3 separate regions of the Homo sapiens genome follow, and regions 1 and 3 are each linked to region 2. Evidence: fine-mapped expression QTL. A gene starts in region 2. Each other region holds a variant in brackets. All regions are shown on one strand. Distances are from middle to middle. Region 1 overlaps BCL2L13 (BCL2 like 13). Region 2 holds the start of BCL2L13 (BCL2 like 13). Region 3 overlaps BCL2L13 (BCL2 like 13).

Region 1 (10,796 bases), 52 kb after region 2:
GATTCTCCTGTCTCAGCCTCCTGAGTAGCCAGGATTACAGGTATGTGCCACCAAACCTGGCTAATTTTTTGTATTTTTTTTTTTTTTGACAGAGTCTGGCTCTTTGCCCAGGCTGGAGTGCGGTGGCGGGATCTTGGCTCACTGCAAGCTCCGCCTCCTGGGTTCAGGCCATTCTCCTGCCTCAGCCTCCCGAGTAGCTGGGACTACAGGCGCCTGCCACCACACCCGACTAATTTTTTGTATTTTTAGTAGAGACGGGGTTTCAGCGTGTTAGCCAGGATGGTCTCGTTGATCTCCTGACCTTGTTTTCTGCCCGCCTTGGCCTCCCAAAGTGCTGGGATTACAGGCATGAGCCACCACGCCCGGCCTGTAATTTTTTGTACGTTTAATAGAGACAAGGTTTCTCCATGTTGCTCAGGCTGGTCTTGAACTCCTGACCTCAGGTGATCCGCCCACCTCGGTCTCCCAAAGTGCTGGGATTAAAGGCGTGATCCACTGCGCCTGGCCACTATGTGGTCTTTTGTGACTGGCATTTTTTACTTAGCATAATGTATTTTTGTTGTTGTTGCTGTTTTTTAAGACATCGCCTTGCTCTGTTGCACAGGCTGGCATGCAGTGGCATGATCTGGGCTCACTGCAACCTCCGACTTTAAGGTTCAAGCAATTCTCCAGCCTCAGCCTCTTGAATAGCTGGGATTACAGGTACCCACCACCACGCCCAGCTAATTTTTGTTTTTAGTAGAGACGGGGTTTCACCATATTGGCCAGGCTGGTCTCCAACTCCTGACCTCAAATGATCCACCTGTCTCGGCCTCCCAGAGTGCTGGGATTACAGGCGTGAACAACTGCACCTGGCCGACTTAGCATAATGTTTTCAAGGGTCATCCATGTTGTAGCATGTATCAGTACTTCATTACTTTTTACAGTCAAATAATATTCCACTGTGTGGATGTGTCATATTTTGTTTATTCATTCATTAGTTAATGGAAATTTAGGTTGTTTCTACTTGTTTACTATTATGTATAATGCTGCTGTGAATATTCTTGTGCAAGTTTTTGTGTGGACATATATTGCCCAATAATTTTTTCTTTTTCTTTTTTTTTTTTTTTTTTTTTTTTTTTTTGAGACAAAGTCTCGCTCTGTTGCCCAGGCTGGAGTGCAGTGGCGGGATCTCGACTCACTGCAAGCTCCGCCTCCCAGCTTCACGCCATTCTCCTGCCTCAGCCTCCTGAGTAGCTGGAGCTACAGTGCCCACCACCACACCCAGCTACTCTTTTGGTAATTTTTAGTAGAGACGGGGTTTCACCGTGTTAGCCAGGATGTTCTTGATCTCCTGACCTCATGACCCGCCCACCTCAGCCTCCCAAAGTGCTGGGATTACAGGCGTGAGCCACCGTACCCAGCCTGCCCAATAATTTTTAATGATCAAAATTATAAATTATGTTCATAACTCATGTTCCTCGTTAGTAGAGAAAAAACACAGATAGAAATGTACAAATAATCCCGAGACCAGGTGCGGTGCCTGTAGTCCCAGCACTTTGGGAGGCTGAAGTGGGTGGATCACTTGAGGCCAGGAGTTTGAGATGACCCCAGCCAACATGGTGAAACCCTGCCTCTATAAAAATACAAAAAAATTAGCCAGGCATGGTGGTGCACACCTGTAATTCCAGCTACCTCGGAGGCTAAGGCATGAGAATCTCTTGAACCCAGGAAGCATAGGTTGTAGTGAGCCAAGATCATGCCACTGTACTCCAGGCTGGGTGACAGAGTGAGACCATTTAAAAAAAATGAAATGTACAAATAATCCTGAAACCTAATGTTAGTCTTGTCTTTTATATTTCTTTTTTTTTCTTTTTTTTTTTGAGACAGAGTCTCGCTCTGTCACCCAGGCTGGAGTGCAGTGGTGCGATCTCAGTTCACTGCAACCTCCGCCTCCCGAGTTTAAGTGATTCTCCTGCCTCAGCCTCCTGAGTAGCTGGGATTATAGGCGCCCGCCACCATGCCTGGCTAATTTTTGTATTTTTAGTAGAGGTGGGGTTTCACCACGTTGGTCAGGCTGGTCTCGATCTCCTGACCTTGTGATCTACCCGCCTCGGCCTCCCAAAGTGCTGGGATTACCGGTGTGAAACACTGTGCCCGACCATTATATTTCTTTATCAACATTTTGAAATGATTAAATTTCTGATTCTCTTCATGTATATTCTGGTAACAGCACTGCTGCATAGTAAAATGGGCAAAAGGTAGAAAGAAGAAGAGAGTAACAAAAGGTTTAAAATACGTTCACTTATTGAACCCCATATTATCTAAGTTAGACCATTAAAATGGATGCTCTCCAGCTTGCTCAAACAACAAAGTATTTGTGAACTTTGCAGCCATTTGCATCTTTCTCGGAGGCAAGCACTTTATAAAGAAACACATACTTTATAGTAAAATTTGCAGCCTTATAGGAGTAAGCGTTAGATTAATGCAATAAATACTTAATGCAGATGACGGCTAAATCTTGGGAGTGGGTGCAAGCGGCCTGCTTTCCTGGTAGCTGATGCCTTGCATCGCATTTGTACTCTGGAACAAGTTACTCTGCTTGCTCTTCCTGCAGTTAGGGAATGGTTAAGTGTCTACAACAAGTTATGACTGCTTTTTCTGGATTCAAGTTTTATTTTATTTTTATTTAATTAATTTGGTTATTTTTTGGGGAGACAGAGTCTCACTTTGTTGCCCAGGTTGGAGTGTAGTGTCATGATCAGGGCTCACTGCAGTCTTGACTTCCTGGACTCAAGTGATCCTCCTACTTCAGCCCCCCAGTAGCTGGGACTATAGGCGTGTGCCACAGCACCCAGCTATTATTATTATTATTATTTTCTTTTTTTTGAGCCAGAGTCTCGCTCTGTCACCCAGGCTGGAGTGCAGTGTCGCAGTCTCGGCCTACTGCAAGTTCTGCCTCCTGGGTTCACACCATTCTCCTGCCTCAGCCTCTCAAGTAGCTGGGATTACAGGCGCCCGCCACCAGGCCCAGCTAATTTTTTTGTATTTTTAGTAGAGACGGGGTTTCACCGTGTTAGCCAGGATGGTCTCGATCTCCTGACCTCGTGATCTGCCCGCTTCAGCCTCCCAAAGTGCTGGGATTACAGGCGTGAGCCACCGCACCCGGCCCCTTTTTTTTTTTTTTTTGAGAAGGAGTTTCACTCTTGTTGCCCAGGCTAGAGTGCAATGGCACAATCTTGGCTCGCTGCAACCTCTATCTCCCAGGTTCAAGCGATTCTCCTGCCTCAGGCTCCTGAGTAGCTGGGGTTACAGGCATGCACCATCACGCCCGGCTAATTTTTGTATTTTTAGTAGAGACGGGGTTTCCCCATGTTGGTCAAGCTGGTCTCGAACTCCTGACCTCAGGTGATCTGCCCAGCCTTGGCCTCCCAAAGTGCTGGGATTACAGGCATGCGCCACCGCGCCCGGCCTTAATATTTTGTATTTTTAGTAGAGATGTGGTTTTGCCATGATGCCCAGGCTGGTCTCGAACTCCTGGACTCAAACCATCTGCACACCTCAGCCTCCCAAAATGCTGGGATTACAGGCATGAGTCACTGTGCTCGGCTTCTGGTTCAACTTTTATACTTGTTTGTATAATCTTCATATAATAGTTTGAAAATTTATCCATGTGTAGTAATATTAAGGTTGAAAGTTCATTTTAATAAGGAAATGAAAGCAATGGACTCATCCTCTGAGGATGATTAGAATCTGATATAAGTGCCAGTTTTATAAATGTAAAACAAAATCTTAAAAACAGAATTTTAAGAGAAGGATAATAGAGCCAGGAATTGCTTCTCATTTATCATTATTATACTTGTTGGTCAGTAATCATAAACTAAATTGATTAGCTTATTATAACATGTCAGTTTAGTTGTTTCTTTTCTCTTAAATCTAAGCTTTTTCATTAAAACCTAAAAGAACCTCTAAATTTATGACCTATCAATGTTTACGTGCCAACAAAGATTAATGTCCACAATGATTATCTGACCTTTTTAAGTGGCTTGTAATGATTAGCTTGTTCCTAATAGTGGGTGTCTTAATCCTGTGGCCTTTTATAGCGCAACTTTTGATATTGTTGTTTTTTTTTTTTTTTTGAGACGGAGTTTCCCTCTTGTTGCCCAGGCTGGAGTGCAGTGGCGTGATCTTGGCTCACCACAACCTCTGCCTCCTGGGTTCAAGTGATTCTCCTGCCTCAGCCTCCTGAGTAGCTGGGATTACAGGCATGTGCCACCACACCCAGCTAATTTTATAGATATTGTTTATTATATTAGGTTTTTCTTTTGTCCTATCTTCAGCCTTCACCAGCACAGGCTTTGACCGTCACACTTCTCCAGTGTTCAGCCCTGCCAATCCAGAAAGCTCAATGGAAGACTGCTTGGCCCATCTTGGAGAAAAAGTGTCCCAGGAACTGAAAGAGCCTCTCCATAAAGCATTGCAAATGCTCCTGAGCCAGTGAGTTACACTGCTGAGTGGGATGTGCTTCTTTAAGTAGTCTCTGGATCTCTCATGCAGCACTGGATTGGTTAGGGCTGTGTTTTAGGTGAACAGTGTCACTTCTTTTCTCACTTTTCTTTACATTTTCTTCATTTTCTTTCCCAAAGCATCTCTGTGTTTTGAATGACAGCTTTGCTTTAAAGGAGTGATTTAGCTATTCCAACATAGATTTGTTAATTTGTATTTATATGTTGAGCTGTCAGGTTTCACCGAATGCTTTTACCAAGTAGTAAATACAAGCTATTTCACTTCCCCAGACCACTTTTTACTGCCATTTCCTCTAGT[C/G]GTGACATGAATATAATGGCTAGCGTTTTGTGCGTTGTAATGTGGGATTAACATTATATCTGTATTTTAGAATTCTGTATTTAACATTTTATTGACCGGGCGCGGTGGCTCACGCCTGTAATCCCAGCACTTTGGGAGGCCGAGGTGGGCGGATTATGAGGTCAGGAGTTCAAGACCAGCCTGGCCAATATGGTGAAACCTCGTCTCTACTAAAAATATAAAACTTAGCCGGGCATGGTGGCGCATGCCTCTAGTCCCAGCTACTCGAGAGACTGAGGGAGGACAATCACTTGAACCCGGGAGGCAGAGGTTGCAGTGAGCCGAGATCCTGCCACTGCACTGCAGCCTGGGTGACAGAGCGAGACTCCATCTCAAAAAAAAAAAAAAAAAACCCAAAAAACCGTTATATCTGTATCCCAGAAGTTGCTCAACTTTAGGGTTGCACATCTGCCAATGGAACTGCTTCTACATTCTTATAGAAGGAACTTCTCTCCTAGCTATGGTTCTGACCATATTAAAGCTAAAGGCAAGAAGCTAGTAATAAGGAAAGTATTAAAATAGAACCAAATCATTTATTATAAATATTAAAAATCAGCCTGTAATCCCAGCACTTTGGGAGGACGAGGTGGAGGTATCACTGGAAGTCAGGAGTTGGAGACCAGCCTGGCCAACATGGTGAAACCCCATCTCTAGTAAAAATACAAAAATTAGCTGAGCATGGTGGCAGGTGCCTATAATCCCAGCTACTCGGGAGGCTGAGGCAGGAGTATCGCTTGAACCCAGGAGGCGGAGGTTGCAGTGAGCTGAGATCATGCCATTGCACTCCAGCCTGCATGACAGAGGGAGACTCCATCTGAAAGAAAAAAATTTTTTTTTTATTTTCCTGTAAGCAAAGTATATATCGATTACCGTTTGTTAGAAGAAAGTAATTTGGGTTTTAGGAGAATTTGATTTTTTGTTGCGTAGTATTGTGAAATGAGCAAATGTAAAAATACTAATTATGCTTAAACAGTGAAATGAAATCGTATTTGGTAATCTCAGTACTTTGGGAGGTCCAGGCGGGAGGATTGCTTGAGGCCAGGAGTTAAAGACCAGCCTGGGCAATATAGCCAGACCCTGTCTCTACAAAAAAAATGTTTAGAAAATTAGCCAGTGTGATGGCATGTTCCTGTAGTCCCAGCCACTTGGGAGGCTGAGGTGGGAGGATCACTTGAGCCCAATAGTTTGAGGCTGCAGTAAGCTATGATCACACCACTGTGGCACTCCAACCTGGGCAACAGAGCAAGACCTTGTCTCTAAAAATAAAAATTAAAAAAGTCGTATTTGGATTTTCTTAACCTAATATATAGTAAAATTTAAATATAAATATGGAGAGAAGTATATGGGTGTTGGGAAATAAAACTTACACAGGAAATTTGGATTTACAGCAGTTGTTTTCAAAAAGTGTTCTATGGAGCCTTAGGCATAGAGGTGCTGCAGGGGTCCTGAAGAAGTGAGGGATAGTAAGTGGGTTAAGCTCATTAGGGCCTCTCCACTCTTCTTTCTTTTTTATTTATTTATTTATTTTAAATTTTTTGTAGAGACAGGGTCTCACTATGTTACCCAGACTAGTCTTATAACTCCTGGCCTCAAGCAACTCTCCCACCTCAGCCTCCCCAAAGTGCTAAGATTACAGGTGTGAGCCATTGTACCTAGCCTTATTTATTTATTTTCCCACTTTTCTTAACCAGAGCACGTGTACTTTCATATATTTTATATTCTGAGGTTACATCTAAGACTTGAAGAAAGAAATTTGCTGCTTCACTCCTCTCTCCACAAAAATGTAAAAGTTATCTGGACCAGGAGTAAAATAATGAAGTGAAAGGTGCAGACTTTTAAAATAATCTTTTTGTCCTGGCTGGGCGCGGTGGCTCACGCCTGTAATCCCAGCACTTGGGGAGGCCGAGGCGGGCGTATCACGAGGTCAGGAGATTGAGACCATCCTGGCTAACACAGTGAAACCCCGTCTCTACTAAAAATACAAAAAATTAGCCCAGCATGGTGGTGGGTGCCTGTAGTCCCAGCCACTCAGGAGGCTGAGGCAGGAGAATGGTGTGAACCTGGGAGGCGGAGCTTGCAGTGAGCCGAGATTGCACCACTGCACTCCAGCCTGGGTGACAGAGCAAGACTCTGTCTCAAAAACAAAAAAAAAAGAATCTTTTTCCAAATTTGATACAGACTTTGGCTTGGAGCAAACCATGTCACCCTTAATATTTCAGTTCTCCATGTGTTAATTTTAACTTTATGGTGTAGTATAAGCTCTTCAAAAAACAGTGTTATGTAAGTTTTTAAAAGTATTGTTTCTGAAGTCCTTTTTATGATCTACAGGAAAAATTGATGTCTTCTCACAGCAAATTCTATTTAAAGGAGAATTGGCTTGGACAAATGTTTATTTTTTTCCCAAATCTTGATAGAATTATTTTTGAAATTGGTTATGTATCAAAGTCAGGTCTCTTTCTTTTTTCAGAAATCTGTTTTTAGAAGTTTTAAGCTCTGTTACTAGTACTTTGAAAATAACTAATGGATGATAAACTACATAAACTAGAAGTATTATAAACGTTGAAGGCAGTATCGTAAGGTAGAAAATACCACTGATTCCTCCAAAAGGTTTTGTTAATGTAGGAAGTTATTGCTGAACCCTTCTTACAGAAGAACAACAGCTGTTTCAAAAAGGTATCCTGCCCCGCTCTTTTCTTCTTTGCTCTATTCTAATAGCTCACTAGGTAGGATTGGTTATTTAGCTACTTACTTTTCTATGTATTTGATTTCCTTTGAATGTTTTAATCTGCTGCATTTTTTGTGCATGTATGTCTGTGTATATGATGTTTCAAATCATGTTTCATTCAGAACGATGCTAAAATACTTTAGCCTGGTAGACAAACAACCAGTAAGGACTACTGTGACCCCCAGCAGCACCAAACAGTTCAGGAAAGGAAGTGAGGGGACTGATATATGCAAGTAAAGCTTCAGGGAAACTATAGGTAGGTAGACTGTGTAGTATCTGCTGAAGTTCAAGGTTTACACGAATCTGCTACTTAGCCCAAGGCATCTGAAAAGTACTAGGCTCACTTTAATGGGAAGGTGATGCCAGGAAGATAGCATATGCTGTATACATTTCATCATTACAGAGGCCATCTCTGGTATCTCATTTCCTTTCAGCATCACTGTAGTATTGATTTGATACAGACTTAGGTGAAAGAATGATGCCTGTGTCATCAGGATTCTTTTCTGAAATATCTAGACCAGTGCGATTCAATGCAAGTCACATATAATGTGGTTTTAAAATGTAATTAAAAACTAGCAGCCAAGTAAAAAATAAAATGAAATGTAAAATTTTTAATATTTTATTTAGCCCAGTACATCTAAAATATTTCAACATGTATTCAGTACAAAAAATTATCGAGCTATTTTGGATTGTTTTTTCTTCCTCATTGAAATCTAGTGTGTATATTATACTTTCAGCACACTGGCCACGTTTCTAATGCTCATTAGCCACATGTGACATCGAGACATTGTCATGGCATGTGTCAGAATCTTAACTTGAAATGGGAGTAGTATAATGGCCTTTGATACCAGATCTGAGTGTGAATTCCTGCCTTGCTGCTTTCCGGCTATGTGGGTTTGGGATAATTTCTTAGCTTTTCTGAGCTTTGGTTTCCAAATATGTGATATAATAATATGTAATATAAAATATAAATATATGAAATATTAAAACCTAACATAATAAGCTACCAGTAAGTGGTAGCTATTATCAATCTTAAATATTCTTAAACTAAGGAAGTCATAGGTCACAGTGGACAGAGCAGAAAAATGCCTTTGGGGTAGTTTATTTATTTATTTATTTATTTATTTATTTAGTGTTTGTTTTTTTTTTTTTTTTTTTTTTTTGGAGACGGAGTCTCGCTCTGTCACCCAGGCTGGAGTGCAGTGGTGCAATCTCGGCTCACTACAACTTCCGCCTCCCGGGTTCAAGCAATTCTCCAGCCTCAGTCTCCTGAGTAGCTGGGATTACAGGCATGCGCCAACACGCGCAGCTAATTTTTGTATTTTTAGTAGAGACATGGTTTCACCAGGTTGGCCAGGCTGGTCTTGAACTCCTGACCTCAGGTGATCCACCCACCTCAGCCTCCCAAAGTGCTGGGATTACAGGCGTGAGCCACAGCACCTGGCTGGGGTGGGATTTTAAAACTCTGCAAAAGCAAGACTCCTTCTCTTCTTTCTTTCCTTTTTCTTTTTTTTTAATTTGAGATGGAGTTTCGCTCTTGTTGCCCAGACTGAAGTGCAGTGGCGCAGTCTCGGCTCAACTGCAACCTCCACCTCCTGGGTTCAAGCCATTCTCCTGCCTCAGCCTCCTGAGCAGCTGGGATTAGAGGCGAGTGCCACCACACCAGGCTAATTTTTGTATTTTTTTTTCTAATTTTTGTATTTTTAGTAGAGACGGGTTTCACCATGTTGGTCAGGCTGATCTTGAATTCCTGACTTCAAGCGATCCACCTGCCTTGGCCTCCCAAAGTGTTGGGATTACAGGCGTGAGCCACTGCACCCAGCCCATTCTTTCTTAACATGTTTGTTAATACTTTGCCCAAAAGGAGGGAAGGTAAATTTTTAATCTATTAATTTTTAATTAATAGATTTTTTTAATTTTAAATCTGTTATCTGAACAATTGATGCCTTCATATGTTACTTGGTCCCCAAGTCTTTTGTTTTTAAAATTTATGCATGAAACCGTGCTTTAAATAAAGTACTTGAAGTCACTCAACAAATGAGTGAGTGTTGTTAATGATTCGAGTTTTTGGTATGACTAGGACTTACATAGAAATAATCAGAAAGGCTTATCTCTCTACCCTTGTATCATAACACTCCAAGTTAAAAATAGGACTCCAGCTAGGGGTGGTGGGACAGGCCTGTAATCCCAGCTAGCACTGAGGCTGAGGTAGGAGGCATCAGTTGGGCCCAAGGAGTTTGAGACCATCCTGGGCAACATAGGTGACTCCATTTAAAAAAAAAAATTTTTTTTTAATTTTTAGTCTTGCACTGTCTTGCACTGTCACCAGTGCAAATATTTCAACATGTATTCAGTACAAAAAATTATTGAGCTATTTTAGATTGTTTTTTCTTCCTCATTGAAATCTAGTGTGTATATTATACTTTCAGCACACTGGCTACGTTTCTAATGCTCATTAGCTACATGTGACATCGAGACATTGTCATGGCATGTGTCAGAATCTTAACATCCAACAGGCCAACAACTGTGGTGAGGTGCCATTGATTATCAGATGAAACCTGATTTCAAAATGTTAAAATGCAGGTGGTGGGGAAAATGTGTGTCCCTGAATCTACAACCGTCTTCCCTGATTCTGTTTTCAGTCTGTGGTCAGAGAGATCTGAGTTCAAATCCCAGCCACACCACTTCCCAGCTGTAGGATGTATTAATTGAGGTAGGCTGAGATTTGCTGCAATCCCTCAATCTCAGTGACTTCACGAGAGAAAAGTTCCTTTGGCGTCATGCAAATCTGCTACAGGTGTGGCCACGTAGCAATGCGAGGAACCACTTGGAACTTATGGTTCCAGGACCTCAACACAGCCTCGTCTACCACCATCAGGGCAAGAAAGAGAAAGAGACTGGATAATTACAGAAAGTCTCTTCCTGCTTCAGCCAGGAAGTGGCACCCATCACTTCCACCCACATTTCATTGGCTGGGCTAACCACATGGCCCTGCTTAACTGCAAGGGGCTGGAAAATATACTTTCCTGGATACTCAGGAAGAAGGAAAGACCAAAATATTCATGCCAATAGTTAAATCTAGCATGGTAACGTTCAGCCTTCCCTGAGCCTTCGTTTCTTGTAAACTCCCAACACTGGAGTTCAGTGGTGCGATCTCGGCTCACTGCAATCTCCGCCTCCCTGGTTCAAGCGATTCCCCTGCCTTAGCCTCCCGAGTTGCTGGGACTAC
Region 2 (10,796 bases):
ACAGGCATGTGCCACCATGCCCAGCTAATTTTTGTATTTTTAGTAGAGACAAGGTTTCACCATGTTGGCCAGGTTGGTCTCGAACTCCTGGCCTCAGGTGATCCACCCGCCTCAGCCTCCCAGAGTGCTAGGATTACAGGCATGAGCCACTGCGCCTGACCACGATTTACTTATTTTTATTTTGAGACATTAGAAAATACAAAAAAGTACAAAGAATAATTTATTCCCATACCATGCACCACTACCCAAAATTAACAATTAACATTTGTCACATTTACTTCAAGACTTCACTTGAAAAACAAATCGTAGGTATAGTTACTATCCCCTTTTGCAGCACCCACTTCTCCCCCATGTTAGTTTCTCTTTAAAACTCAATTTTCTTCAGTTTTGCTGATTCACCAAGGAACAGGCCAGGTCCTGTCTGAAAAGAATGTAAGCTTTACAGAGATAACCTCTGAAGGGAAAAAGTTGTTATGAATACATGCAAAGATGAGCCAGTTGGTAGTTTTCCAAATGTAATTTTCTCCTACATTCTTAGGCCTTGTGGAGACACTTTAAAACATATTTTCAGACAAGTTTCAAAAAACTCCCTCCTAGATAAGCCTATTTGTGGCTTCACCAAAGTCACTGGCCTAGATTCCTGTCAGGTTAGTCAGAAAGGGACGGTTCATGTGCTCTCACCTACTCCCAGGCAGGTTTACTAGATACTGAATCAGCAGGATAAATAAGCTAACTCTGGAGTTTGCTCAGGAGGACAAAGCGCGAAAGACTAGAAGTAAATGTAAATCATCTGTCTTTAAATGTTGAGCAAATAATTTGAAAAGGAAAAAACAAAGTGTAGCCAAAAAATAGTAACTCTAACTTAGGTGTCTGCACTTTTTGCCTCTTTCCAGCCAAATTTCTATGCTACAGTGATTTAAAACCTAGATGGCAGATGGCATCAAGTCACTCCCCAATTTACAACTCTGTCATGGCTTCTGCTTGCTCCTGAAGCCTTCCGCTGGCTCTAGTAGATGAGACCACTGGATCTGGCCCTGTATGCTTGCCTGCCCTCATTACCCCTCCTCCCTTTGCACACCACCTCAAAGCTTTACTGGTTGCCTTTCAGTTTTTTTGAAAACATCTATTTTTCTGCTTGAGAAGTTATTTTCCTCCACTTACCACTTAACTTGTTTTTCATCCTTTAGGTCTCAAAATCTCTTTGAGGAGAGCTTATCCTGGTCACTCTCTCACCTTCTTCTCTATTCCAGTCCCTTGTCTGTTTCAGGACATGCCACCACCTTTTTTTTGTTTGTCTTGTTTTGTTTTTTTGAGACGGAGTCTCACTCTGTTGCCCAGGCTGGAGTGCAGTGGAGTGATCTCGGCTCAACACAACCTCCACCTCCCAGGTTCAAGCCATTCACCTGCCTCAGTCTCCCGAGTAGCTGGGACCACAGGCATGAGCCACCATGCCCGGCTAATTTTTTGTATTTTTAGTAGAGACGAGGTTTCACTATGTTAGCCAGGCTGGTCTGGAACTTCTGACCTTATGATCCACCTGCCTCAGGCTCCCAAAGTGTTGGGACTACAGGCGTGAGCCATCGCACCCAGCCCATGCCATCATCTTAAATTATTTTTACTTTTTTCTGTTTCAATGTTTTTCTTTTCTGGTTTTCCAACTAAGATGTTAGCTTCACAAGAGGGACCGCGTCTGATGTACTCATCATTGCTTTTGCTAGCACCCAGCACCCTGCCTGGTTAATGGCAGGGATTCAATAAACAATTGATTGGCCAGGCGTGGTGGCTGGCACCTGTAATCCTAGCACTTTGGGAGGCTGAGGCAGGCGGATCACTTGAGCCCAGGAGTTTGAGACCAGCCTGGGCAACATAGTGGGACACCTGCCTCTACAAAAAAAAATTAAATAAATTAGCCAGGCTTTCTGGTGCATGCCTGTAGTCCTTGCTACTTGGGAGGATGAGGCCAGAGGATTGCTTGAGCCTGGGAAGTCAAGGCTAGAGTAAGTCATGATCACATCACTGTACTCTAGCCTGGGTAACAGAGTGGAAGTGGAGACTCTGTCTCAAAAGGAAAAAAAAAAAAAAAGCAACAAACAACTGATGAATGCAAATGAATAAAATGAGTAGAGTCTAGTTTAGAGTCGATAACCACATTAGCCTGTAGGCTAGAGATCTGTAGCGCCTATTAAAATCTGTCCAAAACTCCCCCGAAAACTGACCAGGTGCAGTGGCTCATGCCTATAATCCCAGCACTTCAGGAGGCCAAGGCAGGTGGATCACTTGAGGCCACAAGTTCAAGACCAGCCTGGACAACACAGCAAGACGCTATCTCTACAAAAAAAAAACTAAAAAATTAAATAAAAAAGGGCCGGGTGTGGTAGCTCACACCTGTAATCCCAGCACTTTGGGAGACTCAGGCGGGCGGATCACAAGGTCAGGAGTTTGAGACCAGCCTAGCCAACATGGTGAAACCCCATCTCTACTAAAACAAAAGCAAATTAAATAAAAAAACTCCAAATACCATAAACTGCTGTGATTAAAGTCAAATGATTTCTATAAAAGGGCTATATTATTTTATGCAATTTGCTGAAAAGACAATCTCTTTCCTCATTGAAATGCCTTAGCACTTCTGTTGAAAATTAGTTAACAATTCTAGGTTTTCTGTTCTGTTCCATTGACCTGTATGTCTAGTCTCAAAATATATATTCAAAAAATAAAATTAAAAAGGGAAGGCCAGGAACTTTAGGAGGCCAAGATGGGAGAATTGCTTGAGGCTAGGAGTTTCTGAGCAGCCTGGGGAACATACCCATTTCCACAAAAACAATCTTTTTTTTTTTTTAGACAGAGTCTCACTCTGTCGCCCAGGCTGGAGTGCAGTGGTGCGATCTCGGCTCACTGCAACCTCCGCCTCCCGGGTTCAAGTGATTCTTCTGCCTCAGCCTCCCCAGTAGCTGGGACTGAAGGTGCGCGCCACCATGCCCAGCTAATTTTTTGTATTTTTAGTAGAGACGGGGTTTCACTGTGTTGGCCAGGATGGTCTCCATCTCCTGACCTCGTGATCCGTCCCCCTTGGCCTCCCAAAGTGCTGGGATTATAGGCGTGAACCACCACGCCCGGCCTACAAAAACATCTTTTAAAAAGTAGCCATGTGTGGCCTGGGGCGGTGGCTCACGCCTGTAATCCCACCACTTTGGGAGTCTGAGGTGGGTGGATCACTTGGGGTCAGGAGTTCGAGAGCAGCCTGGCCAACACACTGAAACCCCGTCTCTACTAAAAATACAAAATGTAGCCAGGCATAGTGGTGCACACCTGTAGTCCCAGCTACTTTGGAGGCTGAGGCAGGAGAATCACTTGAGCCCAGGAGGCTGAGGTTGCAGTGAGCCAAGATCTGCCACTGCACTCCAGCCCAGGCAACAGAGGGAGACTCCGTCTCAAAAAAAAGAAAAAAAAAAAAAAAAGCTACATGTGGTGGCACAAGCCTGTGGTCCTTGATACTTGGGAGGCTGAGGTGGAACAATTGTGAGCCCAGGAGGTCCATGATGCAGTGAGGTATGATTGTACCACTGCACTCCAGGCTGGGTAACAGAAGCGACACCTTGTCTCTAAAAAAATAAATAAGACCAGGCATGGTGGCTCACGACTGTAATCCCAGCACTTTGGGAGGCCGAGAGGGGTGATCACCCAAGGCCAAGAGTTGGAGACCAGCCTGGCCAACATGGCGAAACCCTATCTCTACTAAGAATACAAAAAAAAAATATTAGCCAGGTGTGGTGGTGGGTGCCTGTAATCCCAGCTACTCAGGAGGCTGAAGCAGGAGAATCGCTTGAACCCAGGAGGTGAGGTTCAGTGAGCTGAGATCGCGCCATTGCACTACAGCCTGGGTGACAGAGCAAGACTCTGTCTCGAGAAAATAATAATAAAAAATAAATAAATAAATAAAGGAAAAGACTGAGAGCAATGTGAAAGAAATGAACTTAAGTATGTACCAAATTGGTAACATAAGTACCTCCCAAAATAAATTATTGCATGTTACATTTTTGAAAGTTTTTTTAGGTAAAGTGTACATACAGTGAACTGCACAGACCTTAAAAGTAAAATTAGGGCCGGGCGCGGTGGCGCACCCCTGTAATCCCAGCACTTTGGGAGGCTGAGGCAGGCGGATCTCTTGAGGTCAGGAGTAGGAGACTAGCCTGGCCAACATGGTGAGACCCCGTCTCTATTAAAAATTTTTAAAAAGCCAGGCACGGTGGCTCACGTCTGTAATCCCAGCACTTTGGGAGGCCAAGGCGAGTGGATCACCTGAAGTCAGGAGTTCAAGACCAGCCTAACCAACGTGGAGAAACTCTGCCTCTACTAAAAATACAAAAATTAGCTGGGCATGGTGGTGGGTGCCTGTAATCCCAGCTACTTGGGAGGCTGAGGCAGGAGAATCGCTTGAACCCGAAAGGCAGAGGTTGCAGTGAGCTGAGATCGCGCCCCTGCACTCCAGCCTGGGCGACAGAGTGAGACTCTGCCTCAAAAAAAAAAAAAAAAAGTCTTCATTTTTGGTTACCCATTTCACTGCAACCTTTGCCTCCCAGGCTCAAGCGATTCTCCTGCATCGGCCTCCCAAGTAGCTGGGATTACAGGCGCGTGACACCATACCTGGCTAATTTTTTGTGTTTTTAGTACAGATGGGGAGTTTCACCATGTTGGCCAGGCAGGTCTGAAACTCCTGACCTCAAGTGATCCGCCCACCTTGGCTTCTCAAAGTGCTGGGATTACAGGAGTGATCCACCACACCCGGCCTGTACTATTAGTTTTCCAAGGTCACTAAGCCTTTCCTTTGCAAAACTTTATGTCCCTATTAATGGCACCATCCTTTCCTCAGTCACTCGGGCTTAAAAAGCATCCTGTGGCACCAGCCCCACAATAGCAGTTCAACTCTTTTATCACTTCCTTTAGAATAGCCTTGTTGAGATATAGATCTCATAACATAGAATTCACCTATAGTGTACAATTCAGTAGTTTTCAGTATTTCAAAGAGTCGTGCCACCATCACCCCAAAAAGAAACTCTGTATCCACTGGCAGTCACTCCCCATCAGGATTTTATCACTTCTGATCTGGCTCAGTCTTCTAACTCCTTATTGTCAATGCCCTCCTTGTTCCAATTCAGTACACACACCACGGGCAATTTGATCTCCCTAAAACACACTGTATCCTCTCTCCTAGATACCTTCCGATACTCCTCCAAAGAACTCTCGGATTCAAGTAAACAAACATCCATTAATACAAGTTAAGTATGTTCCAGGCGCTGTGTGTTCCAGGTACTGTTAACAAAAGCGGGTTACTAGTTAAGACTTCCTTCATGCCCTGGCGCCTCTGCTCAGCCAGTTCCCTTCGCCTAGGAGGACCTCTCTACACCACCCCGCTATATTCCCTCCCCGGAATTCCTTCCCAACCTTCAAGGACCATCTGCCCCAACTAGTGGCGAACATCGAGGCTGTCGTGACTGTGTAGATACTTATTTGACCTGCTCCCTTGGCAAACACTTGAAACGCAATACATGTTTGTGGAACTGAACATAGCCTGTGCATGCAGCAAGGCTTCTTTCCCTGGAATCGCCTGCCCTTCCTCCAACACAGCGACCAGCCGGTCAGAATCCCAACCCCTCGACTCCGGAAATGATCTGAGAGACGGAACTTCCGAACGTCGCAATCAGATTTGGGCGGGCTAGGAGGGTTTGGGTCTTCAGGTCACATCTGGACGGAGAGACCTCCGGGGCCTCCGTTGGTCGGTCCTTCCGCTCCGGATACCGTTCCGGATGTCAGGTAGTTCAGGTCCCGCCCCGACGCCGGCCGTGACGAAGGCACGCCGGGGTGACCTCACCCTCCAACATGGCGGCGGCGGTAGATTAGGGCCGCGGGTCGGAGCACTCACCGCCGCTGGGGGACCCTGTCGGAAGCAACTGCCGCCGCCGCCTCTTTCATCTCTTCTGGGGCAGGGGCCAGGGCCAGGTGAGGGGAGTGGGGTTCCGGGAAGGCTGAGCTGGGTGAGGAGGTGGTTTTCACCTGGGTAGGAAAGTGCCCAGAGACCGTATCGAGCCACCGACTCCCCAGTGGTTCCGACGACGCGTGAGTTTGAGTGTGTGTGTCTACACCGGCGCTCCTTCGCCCGAAGGTGCTCGGAGCTTAGGGGTCCGCTTCACCGTGACCGGACCTGGCCGCGCGGCCCCGCCGCTGAGCAGGCTTCTTCCGGCGTGGGGTGCCGGAGGCGGAGGAGCTCGGCCCTGGCTCCACGCCGCTGTCCTTCCCCACAGACAGCTTCACGTGGAAAACCCGGGTCCATTTTTAGGGCTAAACTGGGGAACGGCGACTTCTTTTTGGTTGAGGGAAAGGTTTTCCTGCGATTCACTTAGAACACTGGAAGATTAGCTTTGCCAGTCTTAGTCGTTTCTTCTCAGAGATTGTTAGAAGTCTTGTTTCTTAACCTTAATTCACTGCTGTTCTGACACCTATTTTTTCAGAAAAAAACTGCCTTCTTGCCCTTGGAGGCAGTACAGTTCACACGGAGTCATTTTCCCCCTTTGATTTATCCTCCCAACATTCTGTAAAGATCCTATTTCTTGCCTTCATAACCGACTTTCTGAGTGGAGGCTCTAACCTAGCGTTGAAAATCGGACGGATCTGGCCAGTTGTTCACATGCTGTTGACTGCTGGCTTTGGTTAGCTCTTAGCCACTCCCTGCACAAGTGTTTGTTTATTCAAAATAGCTATCTCACTGTCTCTGTTTAGAAGTTTGAACTAAGCTGAGAGCCCTCCCTCCTTACTTTTATTTTTTTGTTGTTGTTGCGTAAAACAAAACAAAAACTTCTTTGGCGAAATTATAAGATTTCCTCTGGAGGTTTAGTATAAAGCAGAATGTTGCTCTCTGCCCTGACTAGTGTGACCTTGGATGAGTTGCCACACCCTTCAGATACCTTCTTTCTTTTTTTTTTTTTTTGAGACAGAGTTTCCCTCTTGTTGCCTAGGCTGGAGTGCAATGGCGCGATCTCAGCTTACCGCAACCTCCGCCTCCTGGGTTCAAGCCATTCTCCTGCCTCAGCCTCCCGAGTAGCTGGGATTACAGGCATGCGCCACCACGCGGGGCTAATTTTGTATTTTTAGTAGAGACGGGGTTTCATCATGTTGGTCAGGATGGTCTCGAACTCCCAATCTCTGGTCATCCCCCCGCCTCAGCCTCCCAAAGTGTTGGGATTACAGGCGTGAGCCACCGCGCACGGTGATACCTTTTTTTCAACCACCCCCGCGCCACCGCATGAAGTATTATTTTCATTTTTAACACCCTCTCTCCCCCAAGTGAAGTATTCTTCATTTGGTAATAGGCAGTTAAGGGTATTGAAAATCTTTTTACTAGGAATGGTCAGGTACTGTTCTGTATTTTTTTTCCAATGGCTCATTTTTTATGTGGAAGAGTATATTCAGTAGTTGGATTCACTTTTTATTTTATTTTTAGTTGTCTCCTACAGCAAGGACCAGTAGTTGAATTCAATTGAAAGATGCCTAAGGCTATATCTAACCAGTCTTGTAAAAAAACAGACTTGTGTTTACTAGCACATAATCTAATCAACATGTATTAAATATCACACACATTAAGCTTTTAGGACAAGTGGTTTGCAACAGTAATAATCATTAACAACATTTCATTTGGCTGTTTGCGATGGCTCACTGTAATCCCAGCACTTTGGGAGGCTCAGGCAGGAGCATTGCTTGAGCCCGGGAGTTCGAGACCAGCCTGGGCAACATAAGGAGACCTTGTCTTCACAAAAAATTAAAAAAAAAAAAAATTAGCCAGGCATAGGTCCCAGCTACTTGGAAGACTGAGGCGAGAGGGAGGACTGCTTGAGCCCGGGAGATCAAGGCTGCTGTGAGCTGTGATTGCTCCACTGTACTTCAGTCTGGATGACAGAGACCCTGACTCAAAAAATATATATATGTTTGTTTATTAATTTTTTATATATATATATATATTTTTTTTTTGAGGCGGAGTGTCGCTCTGTCGCCCAGGCTGGAGTGCAATGACACGATCTCGGCTCACTGCAAGCTCTGCCTCCTGAGTTCACACCATTCTCCTGCCTCAGCCTCCCGAGTAGCTGGGACTACAGGTGCCCGCCACCGCGACAGGCTAATTTTTTGTATTTTTAGTAGAGACGGGGTTTCACCGTGTTAGCCAGGATGGTCTCGATCTCCTGACCTCGCGATCTGCCCGCCTCGGCCTCCCAAAGTGCTGGGATTACAGGCATGAGCCACTGCGCCCGGCCTAAATAGATATGTATTTTATTGTGAAATACTTCAGGCATACAAAACACAAGTGTTAAACATTCACTTAGTTCCAGTCTGCATTTATCATTTTTTAGACAGGATTTTGATTTGTATCTTATTCCAAATAAATGTTCACCAAGAGTTCTTGTTTAATATATATACAAAGTGGGGGTGGGTGGTATTTTCAGATTGGTTTATTTTTTTTTCTTGTTCTTCCTCAGACGGTAATGTGCCAATAAGCCCATGAGGCAACATGATTTGAGGGAGGCACATGTCATGCATTAGCATGAAACCCAGTCATCTTGGTTCTTTATGAACCGCAAAAGGATTGGAGTAGCTGATTTTTTTTAACAACTTTATTGACATATAATTAACGTACCATACAACTCACCATTGTACAATTCAGTACTTTTTAGTATATTCACAGAGTTGTGCACCCACCACCACAATCATTTTCATCACCTCAAAAAGAGACTCCCATACCCATTAGCAGTCATTCTTTATTACTGGTCCTCCTACCCCCACCCTTGGGCAACCACTGATCTACTTTCTGTCTATGGATTTGCCTATTCTGGAGATTTCACAAAAATGGGATCACATAATATGTGTTTTTTTTTTTTTTTTTTTGAGAATGAGTCTCACTCTGTCGCCCAGGCTGGAGTGCAGTGGTGCCATCTCGACTCACTGCAAGCTCCGCCTCCCGGGTTGACGCCATTCTCTTGCCTCAGCCTCCTGAGTAGCTGGGACTACAGGCGCCCGCCACCACGCCCGGCTGATTTTTTGTATTTTTAGTAAAGACGGGGTTTCACTGTGTTAGCCAGGATGGTCTCCATCTCCTGACCTTATTATCTGCCCATGTCGGCCTCCCAAAGTGCTGGGATTACAGGTGTGTGCCACCGCGCCTGACCAATATGTGGTCTTTTGTGTCTGGCTTCTCTCTTTTTTTTTTTTTTTTTTTTTGAGACGGAGTCTCACTGTCGCCAGGCTGGAGTGCAGTGGCATGATCCCACTGCAACCTCGGACTCCCAGGTTGAACCTAACTCAGTCCCAAAGTAGACTGAGACTGTAACTCAGTCTCAGTAACTGTAACTCAGAGTAGCTGGGATTACAGGTGCGTGCCACCACACCCAGCTAATTTTTGTATTTTTAGTAGAGACGGGGTTTTGCCATGTTGGCTAGGCTGGTCTCCAGCTCCTGATCTCAGGTGATCCACCTACCTTGGCCTCCCAAAGTGCTGGGATTACTGGCGTGAGCCACCACGCCCGGCCTGTCTGGCTTCTTTCACTTAGCATAATGTTTTCAGAGTTTATCCAAGATGTAGTGTGTATCAGTACTTTATTCCTTTTTATTGCTGCATTCTATTCCATTGTGTGGACATACCACATTTTAAAAATAAGTTGATGGGCATTTTTTTTTTTTTGAGATGGCATTTCACTCTTGTTGCCCAGGCTGGAGTGCAATAGTGCCATCTCAGCTCACCTCAACCTCTGCCTCCTGGGTTTAAGCGATTCTCCTGCCTCAGCCTTCCAAGTAGCTGGGATTATGGGCACACACCACCATACCCAGCTAATTTTTTTTGTATTTTTTGTAGAGATGGGGTTTTTCCATGTTGCTGAGGCTGGTCTCAAATTCTTTGACTCAAGTGATCCTCTTGCCTCTGCCTCCCAAAGTGCTGGGATTATAGGCATGAACCACCACACCTGGTCTGTAATGCTGCTTTGAGCATTCATGTGCAAATTTTTGTGCAGATGCGTTTTCATTTTTCTCTGGTATATATCTGGAAGTGGAACAGAGTAACTGAATTTTATGTCCTCCATTTACACAAGCCATATACAGGAAGCCTAATTATTGTGAAAGTCAGATTATCTAGGACGGGATGAAAGTAAGGCAGTTCTCTGAATTATCTGCAAATGCCAACTGCTGAGTGAAAATATTTTTGGGTAGCTCTAACACAAGATTGAACAATTAGGCCTGTTTTAATTGGAAAGGGGGTAGTGTCTACACTAGAGTTTTAGTGTCTGCTGAGTTTTAAAAATGATACTTGTCCAGTTGCATTTTTCAGATGGGTGGGGTGAATTTTTTACCATTTGATAATTTTTTTTTTTGAGATGCAGTTTCACTCTTGTGAGGTCTTCACTCCCGACCTCAGGTGATCCGCCCGCCTTAGCCTCCCAAAGTGCTGGGATTACAGGTGTGAGCCACCGCGCCCGGCCATTTCATAATTTTTATTAGAATTATTTTACTCTCTTTCAGAGAAAGTCTTACAATTCAATAGGAGCTGGCAAAGCATGGATTAGAAAATAGCTTTGGACTCCATGTTAACTTGTGGAACTTAAAAAAAATTCCCTGTTCAAGCCACCAGTGAGTCATGAGACTAAAGAGCTGATAGCCAAGAAACTTAATGTTTTGTTGTTGTTGTTTGCTTTTTTATTTTTATTTTATTTATTTATTTTTTGAGATGGAGTCTCACTCTGTCGCCCAGACTGGAGTGCAGTGGT
Region 3 (10,796 bases), 90 kb after region 2:
GAACCAAAGGGTTAATCTGGGAATAGCTGACATCTTTACAATAGTTTTCCAATCTATGAGCATGATATATATATCCCTTTAGGATATCTTTAATTTCTTTCAATAATACTTTGTAGTTTTTTATGTAGAGTTATTGTACAATATGGGCTTCCTTCCACATTGGACTTAAAAATGTACTTCTTTTTTAATAGTAGTTAAATAGTTTGGATGAACCATATATATTTTTAAACTTTCCTGAGGGTATTGAAGACTGTTTGAAATCCTTCTGTATTAAAAATGATGCTAATGAAAATCCTTGCAAAATGTGTAAGCTTGAGACCTGATTACAGCTTCCGGTTAGGATCTCCATGTCTTTGCTTACTTAGCTGAACCAAACCCTCCCTGTGTCTCTCTCTATCTGTCCCTCTCCCTCTCTCCCTCTCTCTTTCTCCCTCTCCTGAATGCATCCTCTTCTGGACCATTCCAGTGGTCCTTACCCTGAGGCTGGGGCAAGCTGTCATCCTCAAAAGCTGGGAGGCCTAGAAGCCCTCTCTTCCAAGCCAATGGGCCCTCCAATTTTCCTAATTGTATACTGCAGTACTGTAATTTTTAAAGACAGATTTTACTTTACAGTTTTGTGTTATCTCTGCTTAGAAGAGATGGAGGAGGAAGGAAAAGTTTGTAAATTACCTTCTTTAGCCAAGGGAGGGTATTGTTTCCATTTGTTTTCACTTCCTTATTGTCCCATCCAGTTGGTATTTTAGAATAGCTCTTTGTCCTACCACCATACCACCAAAAACAACAATTAAAATGACAACACAAACAATAGCAAGTTATGAAATAGCATAACTTACTGATTACTTCCTATGTACAAAGTACTAATCTAAGCACTATAAATACTATACCTCGGGCCGGGCGCGGTGTCTCACGCCTGTAATCCCAGCACTTTGGGAGGCCGAGGTAGGTGGATCACGAGGTCAAGAGATTGAGACCATCCTGGCCAACATGGTGAAACCCCGTCTCTACTAAAAATACAAGTATTAGCTGGGCATGGTGGCGTGCACCTGTAGTTCCAGCTACTCGGGAGGCTGAGGCAGGAGAATCACTTGAACCTGGGAGACGGAGGTTGCAGTGAGCCAAGATTGCACCACTGCACTCCAGCCTGATGACAGAGTGAGACTCCGTCTCAAAAAAAAAACAAAAAAAAACAAAAAACAAACTATACCTCATTTTAAAAATGAACTCAAGTCCAGGTGTGGTGGCTCACACCTATAATCTCAGCACTTTGGGACACTGAGGTGGGAGAATTGCTTGAAGCCAGGAGTTTGAGACCAGCCTGGGCAACATAGAGAGACCCGTCTCTACAAAAAATAAAAAAACTTAGCTGAGTGCAGTGGCCCATGCTGTTATTCCCAGCTACTCAGGAGGCTGAGGCTAGAGGATCCCTTGGGACCAGAAGGTTGAGGCTGCAGTGAGCTGTGATCCTGCCACTGCACTTCAGCCTGTGTGACAGAGCGAGACCCCAACTCTAAAAATACAACAAAAACAATCTTATCTAGTCAGTCATCCCCATTTTATTTGTGAAGAAATTGAAGTCTAAAAGTTTAAGCAAGGTATCCAGATTCGCACAGCTGGTACACAGTTGGAGCTGGGATACAAGCCAGTTGTTTTTGACTGTGAATTTTGTGGTCATACTGTATTATTTTAACCCCCTGATTATTCCATACTCATAGAACATCCTTGATGCTTACCAGGGCCTCTGAAGTGGCTGGAGCAAGGGTCGAGGTAGAAAGTGGTGCAGTATGATGCCGACATCATGGTCGTGTGATTTATTTGTATTTCTTATTTCCTTTTTTATGGGGCTGATAGACTTTTGATTTATGTTAGATCCTTGATGTATGTAGAAAGTTTTTGGTTTTGGTTGAAGAATGAAATTATCCTACTTCAGTTGAATAGCAACCATAATCATAAAATGAAGTAGAAATTAATTTGCTTTACATATTCCATTCAGATTCCCTGTAGCTTTTACGAGTGTTGTCTAGCCTTTGTATGACAATTTCTGTACATCTCTGTGACATTCCATTCCATTGGTTCTCTTCCTGTCCTTTTATTGCGCCTTACCCTCTGGGTTGGCCTAGCCCCTTGTGCATACACCTGTCATAAAGCTTTCTGTATCATATTGAAGTTAGTTATTCATATGTCAGGCTTCACAGCTGCCTAGTAAATTCTGTAAGAATAGACCCATTCTTTCTCGTAGCCCTTGTGCCTGACACAACCCTGATAAGCAGTAGGCACACGGTGGCCTGTTATTAATAGACATGGACACAAGGCCTGTGCTGTAGGGCTTTATTGCTTTCACTCAGACTTCCTGACAAAAGAAGCAAGAGTCTCCGTGTCTGCAGCATTTCTCCATTCTGTCTCTGCCATCAGAGGAATTTTAAAGCAAAGCTCTGATTATAATTTTGTACCTCAGAGATGTCAGTGACAAACCATCGCCTGTTGGATAAAGTCCATATTTCTTAGCTGTCATTCAGGTTCCTCCATGGTCCTGTCCTCACTGACCTTCTATTCTTCATGGGCACTCTGCATTAATTAAACAGGGCTCTGTCCTTATCTTCTTTTTTTTCTGTCTCTGTGCTTTTGCCTGCATTGTGTCTTCTGTGTACCCTTCGCCTGCCAAAATCTTACCCATTCTTCAGATGTCTGATAGAAATGCTAGTCCCTCCGTGAGGCTTTCTGTGATCTCCCTGCTTTCTCTGACCTCTACCCAAAGAGGTCTTTTTCCCATCTGAACTTTTTTTCTTCTTCTTCTAAGGAAAGCAACACTGCCATATGAACTCTTAATGGCACTTGGACTATGACATAGCATTATTTGTATACCCTACTAAGTGATAAATTCCTTGAGCACAAGGTCTTGCCTTTGTTTTCTCTGCTGTTTTGCATTAATTACTGCATTGAACATACAGGGTGAGTATCCCTTATCCAAAGTGCTTGGGATCAGAAGTGTTTTGGATTTTAATTTTTTTTTTTTTGATTTTGGAATGTTTGTGTGTATGTGATGAGATGTCTTGGGGATGGGAAAGCCCAAACATGACATTTACTTCTTTTTGTATGCACCTTATACATATAGCGTGAAGGTAATTTTATATAATATTAATATATTAATTTACAAATATACAATATTTATAACATAAATATATATAATATTTTGTGTGCATGAAGCAGATTTTTGACTGTGTTTTGCCTGCAACCCACCACATGAGGTCAAGTGTGGAATTTTCCACTTGTGATGTCATTTCAGCACTCAAAAAGTTTCGGATTTTGGGCCGGGCACAGTGGCTCACGCCTGTAATCCCAGCACTTTTGGGAGGCCAAGGCGGGTGGATCACTGAAGGTCAGGAGTTCCAGACCAGCCTGGCCAACATGGTGAAACCCCATCTCTACTAACAATACAAAAGTTAACTGGGCGTGGTGGCAGGTGCCTATAATTGCAGCTACTGGGAAGGCCGAAGCAGGAGAATCGCTTGAACCTGGGACGCGGAGGTTGCAGTGAGCTGAGATTGTGCCACTGCACTCTAGCCTGGGAGACAGAGCAAGACTCCATCTTAAAAAAAAAAAAAAAAAAACCTCAGATTTTGGATCATTTCAGATTTCAGGTTTTCAGATTAGGATGCTCTCAGCCTGTGTGTGAATTACACTGAATGTATATTAACTTAGGATTTTTTAGTTTCAAGGAGACTGCTCAGAAGACTGTCAAAAATTCTTTCTCTGCATTGGCCTACAAATACATGCATTCCATTCGGAAACTATGTAGGTTTAAACAGTGTTTCATTCCTAGAACTTCAGTTTAGGAAAGAATTTGCTTTCCAGATTGATGTTTATGTTTTAAATAGTTACCATTCTTTATTATTGACGCTTGTCCTTCGTTTCTAGGGCACTGTGTTTAGTCTTGAGTCAGAGGAGGAGGAATACCCTGGAATCACTGCAGAAGATAGCAATGACATTTACATCCTGCCCAGCGACAACTCTGGACAAGTCAGTCCCCCAGAGTCTCCAACTGTGACCACTTCCTGGCAGTCTGAGAGCTTACCTGTGTCACTGTCAGCTAGCCAGAGTTGGCACACAGAAAGCCTGCCAGTGTCACTAGGCCCTGAGTCCTGGCAGCAGATTGCAATGGATCCTGAAGAAGTGAAAAGCTTAGACAGCAACGGAGCTGGAGAGAAGAGTGAGAACAACTCCTCTAATTCTGACATTGTGCACGTGGAGAAAGAAGAGGTGCCCGAGGGCATGGAAGAGGCTGCTGTGGCTTCTGTGGTCTTGCCAGCGCGGGAGCTGCAAGAGGCACTTCCTGAAGCCCCAGCTCCCTTGCTTCCACATATCACTGCCACCTCCCTGCTGGGGACAAGGGAACCTGACACAGAAGTGATCACAGTTGAGAAATCCAGCCCTGCTACATCTCTGTTTGTAGAACTTGATGAAGAAGAGGTGAAAGCAGCAACAACTGAACCTACTGAAGTGGAGGAGGTGGTCCCCGCACTGGAACCCACAGAAACGCTGCTGAGTGAGAAGGAGATAAACGCAAGGGAAGAGAGCCTTGTGGAAGAGCTGTCCCCTGCCAGCGAGAAGAAGCCCGTGCCGCCGTCTGAGGGCAAGTCTAGACTGTCCCCCGCCGGTGAGATGAAGCCCATGCCGCTGTCTGAGGGCAAGTCTATACTGCTGTTTGGAGGGGCTGCTGCTGTTGCCATCCTGGCAGTGGCCATCGGGGTAGCCCTGGCTCTGAGAAAGAAATAGGAGGCTTTTCAGAAGAGAAAGACAGAAGGATGTAAGGTTGGAGTTGTATTGGCTGGAATTTGAACCTCCAGCAGCTGTCTGGACATTTGTGGAACACTCTGGGATAATTGGGGACTTCTGCTCAACATGGCAGTGGCATGTTAGGCATGTTAGGGCTTGAGGTGGGGCATTCACATTCATCTGACTGTAAATCCCAAGGGCCTCCGCTCATGCTAAATTGAGAATCTTAGGGGTAAAGCACCCCCTCCAGGACCGGGTTTCTCAGCCTTGGCACTAGTGCTGTTCTGACCATTCTCTGTGTTGGGGCTGTCCTGTGTGTGGTGGGCTCCACCCACTAGATGCCAGTGGCACCCCCTCCCAGAGATGACAAACGAAAATGTCTCTAGACATTGCCAAATGTCCCGTGTGAACATCCCCTATTGAGACCCACTGCTTTAGCGAGAGAGGGTTTACTTAGGAAGAATTGGGATAGAAATTCCCAGCTGAGAGAACTTAGCTGTGGGCTCCTCAGCTACTGACTTCTTAGCTCTTAATCCCCTTAGAATTTCATCTTTCTCGATGAGC[A/AGGCTG]GGCTCTGCACCCACTCTTTTTTTGCCCCCCGCCCTCATCCTGGAGTGTGAGGGTGCTCGCCCGTACTCTCAGCTGCCTCTCAGGGACTGCACTGTTCCTCTTCACCCCCAGGTTCCTGCTAAGATCCCACGGGCGAGGGCTTGCTCTGGACTCAGTCTGTCAAGTCCCCGAAGCTTCCTGCAGCTCCACCTTGTAAAAATGCTGCCTTTGGGAATCTTCGAAATATGTACACAGAGAAAATCACATGAAGGAGACCTGGGGTCCCCACTTGTGAGTGCAACTGCAAGTAACTCTGGCTAGAGAGACACATGTGTCTTGTGTCAAGGCAGGAGGATAACCTGGATGACCTTCTGAGGTCTCTTCAGCCCTTTTCGCTAGTGGTCACCCACCACCATGGTTACTTGCCAGCAACATCTCTATTGCTGGATGGTCCCTGTCTATAACCTTGGGCTAGTATATTTTTTCCAATATGGGACCTTAGTCTTACTACTGATGAGTTCTATGGGTCTCTTGCTAGGGGGTAAGGATTTTTATTCTTGGGCTTATAGAGCCAGTTAGATCATAATTCTTATGAAATAGAGAGTGTCCTAAATATCACTGAAATAAAAAGTAGGAAAAAGAAGCTTGAATTTTAAGACTGAGGCTGCTCTGCAGATTCTAGTTTGGCTTTCAGAGTTCAAGAGTGGTGGCATCTTCACCTGAATTCTTCAATGCCAGGGTAATAAACCAAAATAGTCCTAATCAGTATATGCTAGTTGAGCATCGGCATAATTTTCTTTCCTCTGGCTGATCCCAGCCCTAAAGGAAGGGTAGACCCGTGTCTTTCCAGCCCTAAAGGAAGGGTAGACCCGTGTCTTTCCAGCCCTAAAGGAAGGGCAGACCCGTGTCTTTCCATGCCCGAGGGCCACGACGTCACTATGCAGGGCACACGTGGCTTGGTTTAAAAAGGTCATCTTAGATTTATCTTAGTAAATGTAATAAATTATTTTTTAGATCTTGAAATTTATAATAAAAATACTTTACCTACCCTGATCACCAAAACCTGATGTTTTAAATGTGCTTTCTTTTTGAAATTTATGTTTTCAAATAAAATCTCCCTAAAGCAATATTTAAAAATTGGTCAAAACAAGGTCTGGGAGTATGTTTGTGTGTCTTTCCAGCTTTATCCTGTAGCGTGTCTTTGTTCTGTGTTTTAGTGTCCCATTTAGGGAGTGATGTTTTAAGGGTTTTTGTGTACTTGGATTAAGTAATTAGAGGTGAGTGGGGGGAATGGGATTATTGAGGCAATGATTTTTTTCTTCATGGGCTCTGATAGTTGCATTGATTGTTCTGTATTCTAATTGCTATATTTGTGTTTGCATAGGTGAAGAGCAAACTGGTGCGTTATCTTGATTTTTAAAAAGTAATAAATCCTATGAGTTCCAGTATTAACACTTGCCAGTTCTGGATCCTCACACCCATTGGCTGAGCGCATTCAAGCACCAATCGAAGCCAGGTTCATCTCTGAGCTGCTGAAAGGAGGTGTGAGGCTTAGGAAATTGGAGCCTGTGTTGCCCACGAAAGGAAAGAATAAGGAAGAAATGTGGTATGGAAGCGGCTACTTGCTGCTTTATTTTCCCACCTGTTAGACATTCCTCCACAGTGATTTGGCCAGTTGTATTTCACGGTAATGGAACTAGATAGTGTTTTCCATTGGCTTTCTCTGGTAGCTCTTGGTCAGCTCCTGAGTTAACAGGATGTGGCAGCATCCCTGTTCTTCCTTCACGTCCTCACCCTCTGCCTCCAGCAGTGGAAGGGAACAGCCCTCATGAGGACTGCTTCCTACTGCAGCTCCTGCTTTTTGCTCATACATTTAAAAAACTATTTCTCAAGCTTCCCCTCCTTTTGGGGGGAGGAGCTGATAGTAGGAGGCCATTCCTTCCACCTCCAACTTATACCCTCTAAGTCTAAGGTGAAGGAAAGATTCAGAATAAATCCAACTTGTTTATAGAAAAGTTCTTGTTAGTCCTTAGACCTCATCTCAACTGCTCTGTTGAAGGTAATGATTTATTGGGGGGAAAAAACAACGCCAATTTATCCTCTCTGTATTAAAGTGATAATTCTGGGCCCACAGAAATCAGTCAGTACCTGCGGTGTGCCTTAAGGGGACTCTCATGATCATCATTCCCTTCTAGAGAACATTCTAGATGAAGAAATGCAACTGTTGACCTTCTGGTTCACCCATCTCCCCCTCGAGGCATTCTTGATACCCCTTCTCACCTGCATTTCTGTCCCAGGGATACCAGATGCAGCCACTACCTAACTAGGCTTGTCCTGGGGGAGTGAGCCGTGAACCTGGAGACATGGCTTTGACCCACAGCTACTGTTCATTTCCTCAGGCTTTGCGCTGATTCCCTCAATAATATGACAGTAAGGCAAGTAGTCTCCTTGCCTTTCTCCTGAAAGGTATGAGATGTGGACATTTCAGTGTTTGAATTATTTTAAGAGATGTTTTATAGAAATAAAACGTTTTGTAGCTAAGAATTTTCCCTTTCTCTTAATTTCTTACATCTTTCCACACAAACTTATCTTTCCAAGAATTTGAGGTGGTGATCATACCCATCAAGACGGCCTTGTAGGCTATCTGATTGCTAACAGACACGACCTAGAGCTTCTGCCCAAATTCCCACACAAGCATTATCTCGTTTAACATCTCAGCGACATACTGGATACCAGAATAATGTTTCCTCTTCTCTGGTGCACCAAAACCTGCCCTTAGTGATAATCTCTCAATTATGACATTCATTTGAGTTTAGGGTGTATAATTTTTCCTAAAAAAAATTCATGTCGATAATTATATTTTAGCAAATACTAGTTGAGCATTTATAACATGCCAGAGACGGTTCTAGTGCTCTCACATACCTTATTTCACCTTCACAGTTCTAATAGCTGTTTGTATTCCTTTTATTCCCATATTACAGAATGAAGAACCTAATCAGAGTTTGTTAGTTTTTCTTTTTCCTTTTTTTTTTTTTTTTTTTTTTTTGAGACAGAGCCTTGCTCTGTCGCCCAGGCTGGAGTGCAGTGGCACAATCTCGGCTCACTGCAAGCTCCGCTTCCCGGGCTCACGCCATTCTCCTGCCTCAGCCTCCCAAGTAGCTGGGACTACAGGCGCCCGCCACCATACCCGGCTGCTTTTTTTGTATTTTTAGTAGAGACAGGGTCTCTACTATGTTAGCCAGGATGGGCTCGATCTCCTGACCTCGTGATCCACCCGCCTTGGCCTCCCAAAGTGCTGGGATTACAGGCGTGAGCCACCGTGCCCGGCCCAGAGTTAGTTTTTCTAACGTCCTCAAGCATAGGCGAGGCAAGGCAATGATTTTGCCGGTTTTTATCATTTTCCTGGCACTGCAAAGCAGTATTGGCAGGTCCCCTGCAAACAGTTGCGCCAGTTGTTTACTGCATAAGGACTGACTGGGGACAAATTCCGACGTGCAGCCTGTGCTCTGCTCACCATGCTGTGGGCTCTGGGAGAAGCGAAGTATTTTTCTAATTTGTACAAAGGCACCATATAGGCTCACTTAAACATTAAGCATGTTCTACTACAAAAAAACAAGAGTGAGGGTTAGGTCCAGGACTGGTCTCAGCTTCCAATTATGTAGCTGTTTTCCCTGTAGACATTGAGTGAGATGCTTTGTGGTTACAGAATTCACAGTCATTGCCGATGAGCTTTCATTAGCTTTCTTGATTAAATATTTTTGCTTGTAGACAAGGTTAGGCAATCTGTCCCAGCAGTTATCACAAAGTGCTAAATGAGGGGGGTGAAGACAGCACCACGATGCATTTCTTGGTCTTTTTCTGTTTGTTCGAGTTCGTCCCTTCTCCCCTGTGTATGCCATCATAAGGGTGGGGCTGTGGAGTGAAGTAGGGGAATACCTGGAAGCATTGCTTGGCCTCTGGACAGACAAAGAGGTTGGGGACTTAGGAGGGTTGACCAGGTATGGCCACAAGTACGTCAGCTCCTGGAGGATCTTCCCAGTGAAAAGCCTCCTACTACATTCCACAGCACTTCATGGTAATTATAACCTTGGCTAGATAATACCTGCTGTATGGTACAGAATAGTGACATTCAATTACCTCATATATAAAGAGAGCTCCATGGAGAGCTGGAAAGTGCATGCCACTACAATATTAACACATCCCATCTTCCCTTTCTTTTTGCAAGGCTGTTGAATTTCAGCCCGGCATCCCCACACACTAACACCATCAGGTCTTCCACATTTGATGGTTACACCACAGGAGCCCACACCAGACTGCTGCTTCCCTGTGAGCTCAGAGTGAAATTGTTCTCAGGGGTATTTGCAAGGCCTTGTCATCAGTTAAAGACTAGCAGCTGACTCCAGGTGATTCTACCCCGCTGTCACCTCTCCAAAGGGGAAATTGAATAGTGGTATTGCTCACTGTGGTGAGTGTTCTTTGCACCACCAGAAGAAACTGGTTAATGAATGTACTATTTAGAAGAAAAGTTTTGACATTTAAAGATTACTAGTTGTTCCCTTTCCCCAGGAAAAGAAGGTCAAAGTACAGTCTTCCCTGTTGCAGAGTTTGGAATAACTCTGTTTGCCCTGATGCTTTCCAGCAGGAGAACTGTATTATGTAGAGGGGTCCTTGGCCAGCATCAAAGGAAAAAAATTATTTTTTTCCTAGACCTGTATTTTTCCTATTACAGTCTTCCATTTATTTCTTCCTCCAGATTAAAAGTGCCTCTTCCTACCTCATTCCTTAATTAAGGTCAATTTAGTGTTGGCTCAAATGCTTTCATCTCAAAAATACCGGAATTGAATGGTAATTTGGATAATTAAGTTATCGTGCATTTTAAGCAGCATGTGTTTCCTTTTTCCGTGTGAGTTCCATGAGCCTCTGCACTGCCGCTCTGCACTGCTGAACTGATCACTGTGGGTCATTCTGGCTCCTCTTCCTTCCTGTCATCTACCTTTTGGCCAATCTACTCTTCATCAGGGGAAAGGAACAAACTTCAAATCTGTGAGTTATTCTTTCTGTCAGAAGCAACGTGCTAGAGAGAATACATGGGATTTGAAGATAATCAGTGGACTCATCTTTCTATCCACATGGTAACTATGCCCTTGACAGGTGGTATCATTTCACATCATCAATTGTCTTTGTTAAGTCCATACTTAATTGGTTTGACTCCAGGTTTTGAAAACAAGATCGTAACATTCAAAGGACTCTATATTCCAATTCTCAGCTAGCACAACTAATAAAGTTGCTGGACAGTAAAACTAGGCGCCAGTGCTGTGATCCTTTAAGGAAGCCTTGAGTATCGCAGCAGTTAATGCTGGGTCCTAAGAGGAGAGGTCAGGAATGATTTGACCTTCTGAATGCACCAAATGTCCCACGTGACTTTCAGATACACCAAGCATCTTTTCAAGGAGAAAGCTTTTGATGTTTAACAAAAGAATTT

What was found. PIP is the estimated chance that this variant, and not a neighbour inherited with it, causes the effect.
Region 1: its variant is fine-mapped to the expression of BCL2L13 in whole blood (TOPMed, PIP above 0.99).
Region 3: its variant is fine-mapped to the expression of BCL2L13 in tibial nerve (GTEx, PIP above 0.99). The same link has a PIP of 0.9 or more in sigmoid colon.

The regions. Positions count from the first base shown.
Region 1 is chr22:17,684,667-17,695,462 of GRCh38, forward strand. BCL2L13 (BCL2 like 13) reads left to right here. Exons shown (of 7, transcript NM_015367.4): 4 at 4,320-4,476. Among named protein-coding and RNA genes, the nearest start is that of BCL2L13, 51 kb to the left of the region's middle. The variant C/G (reference allele first, on the strand shown) is at 4,804.
Region 2 is chr22:17,632,893-17,643,688 of GRCh38, forward strand. It overlaps BCL2L13 (BCL2 like 13), which reads left to right and starts at 5,865. Exons shown (of 7, transcript NM_015367.4): 1 at 5,865-5,994. It also overlaps the pseudogene LOC124905160. RefSeq lists a silencer at 1,882-2,113 and enhancers at 4,130-5,002, 5,003-5,874, 5,427-5,476, 5,527-5,706, 5,827-6,106 and 1 more.
Region 3 is chr22:17,722,765-17,733,560 of GRCh38, forward strand. It overlaps BCL2L13 (BCL2 like 13), which reads left to right. Exons shown (of 7, transcript NM_015367.4): 7 at 3,913-8,091. The coding sequence ends at 4,770. Among named protein-coding and RNA genes, the nearest start is that of MIR3198-1, 36 kb to the right of the region's middle. The variant A/AGGCTG (reference allele first, on the strand shown) is at 5,335.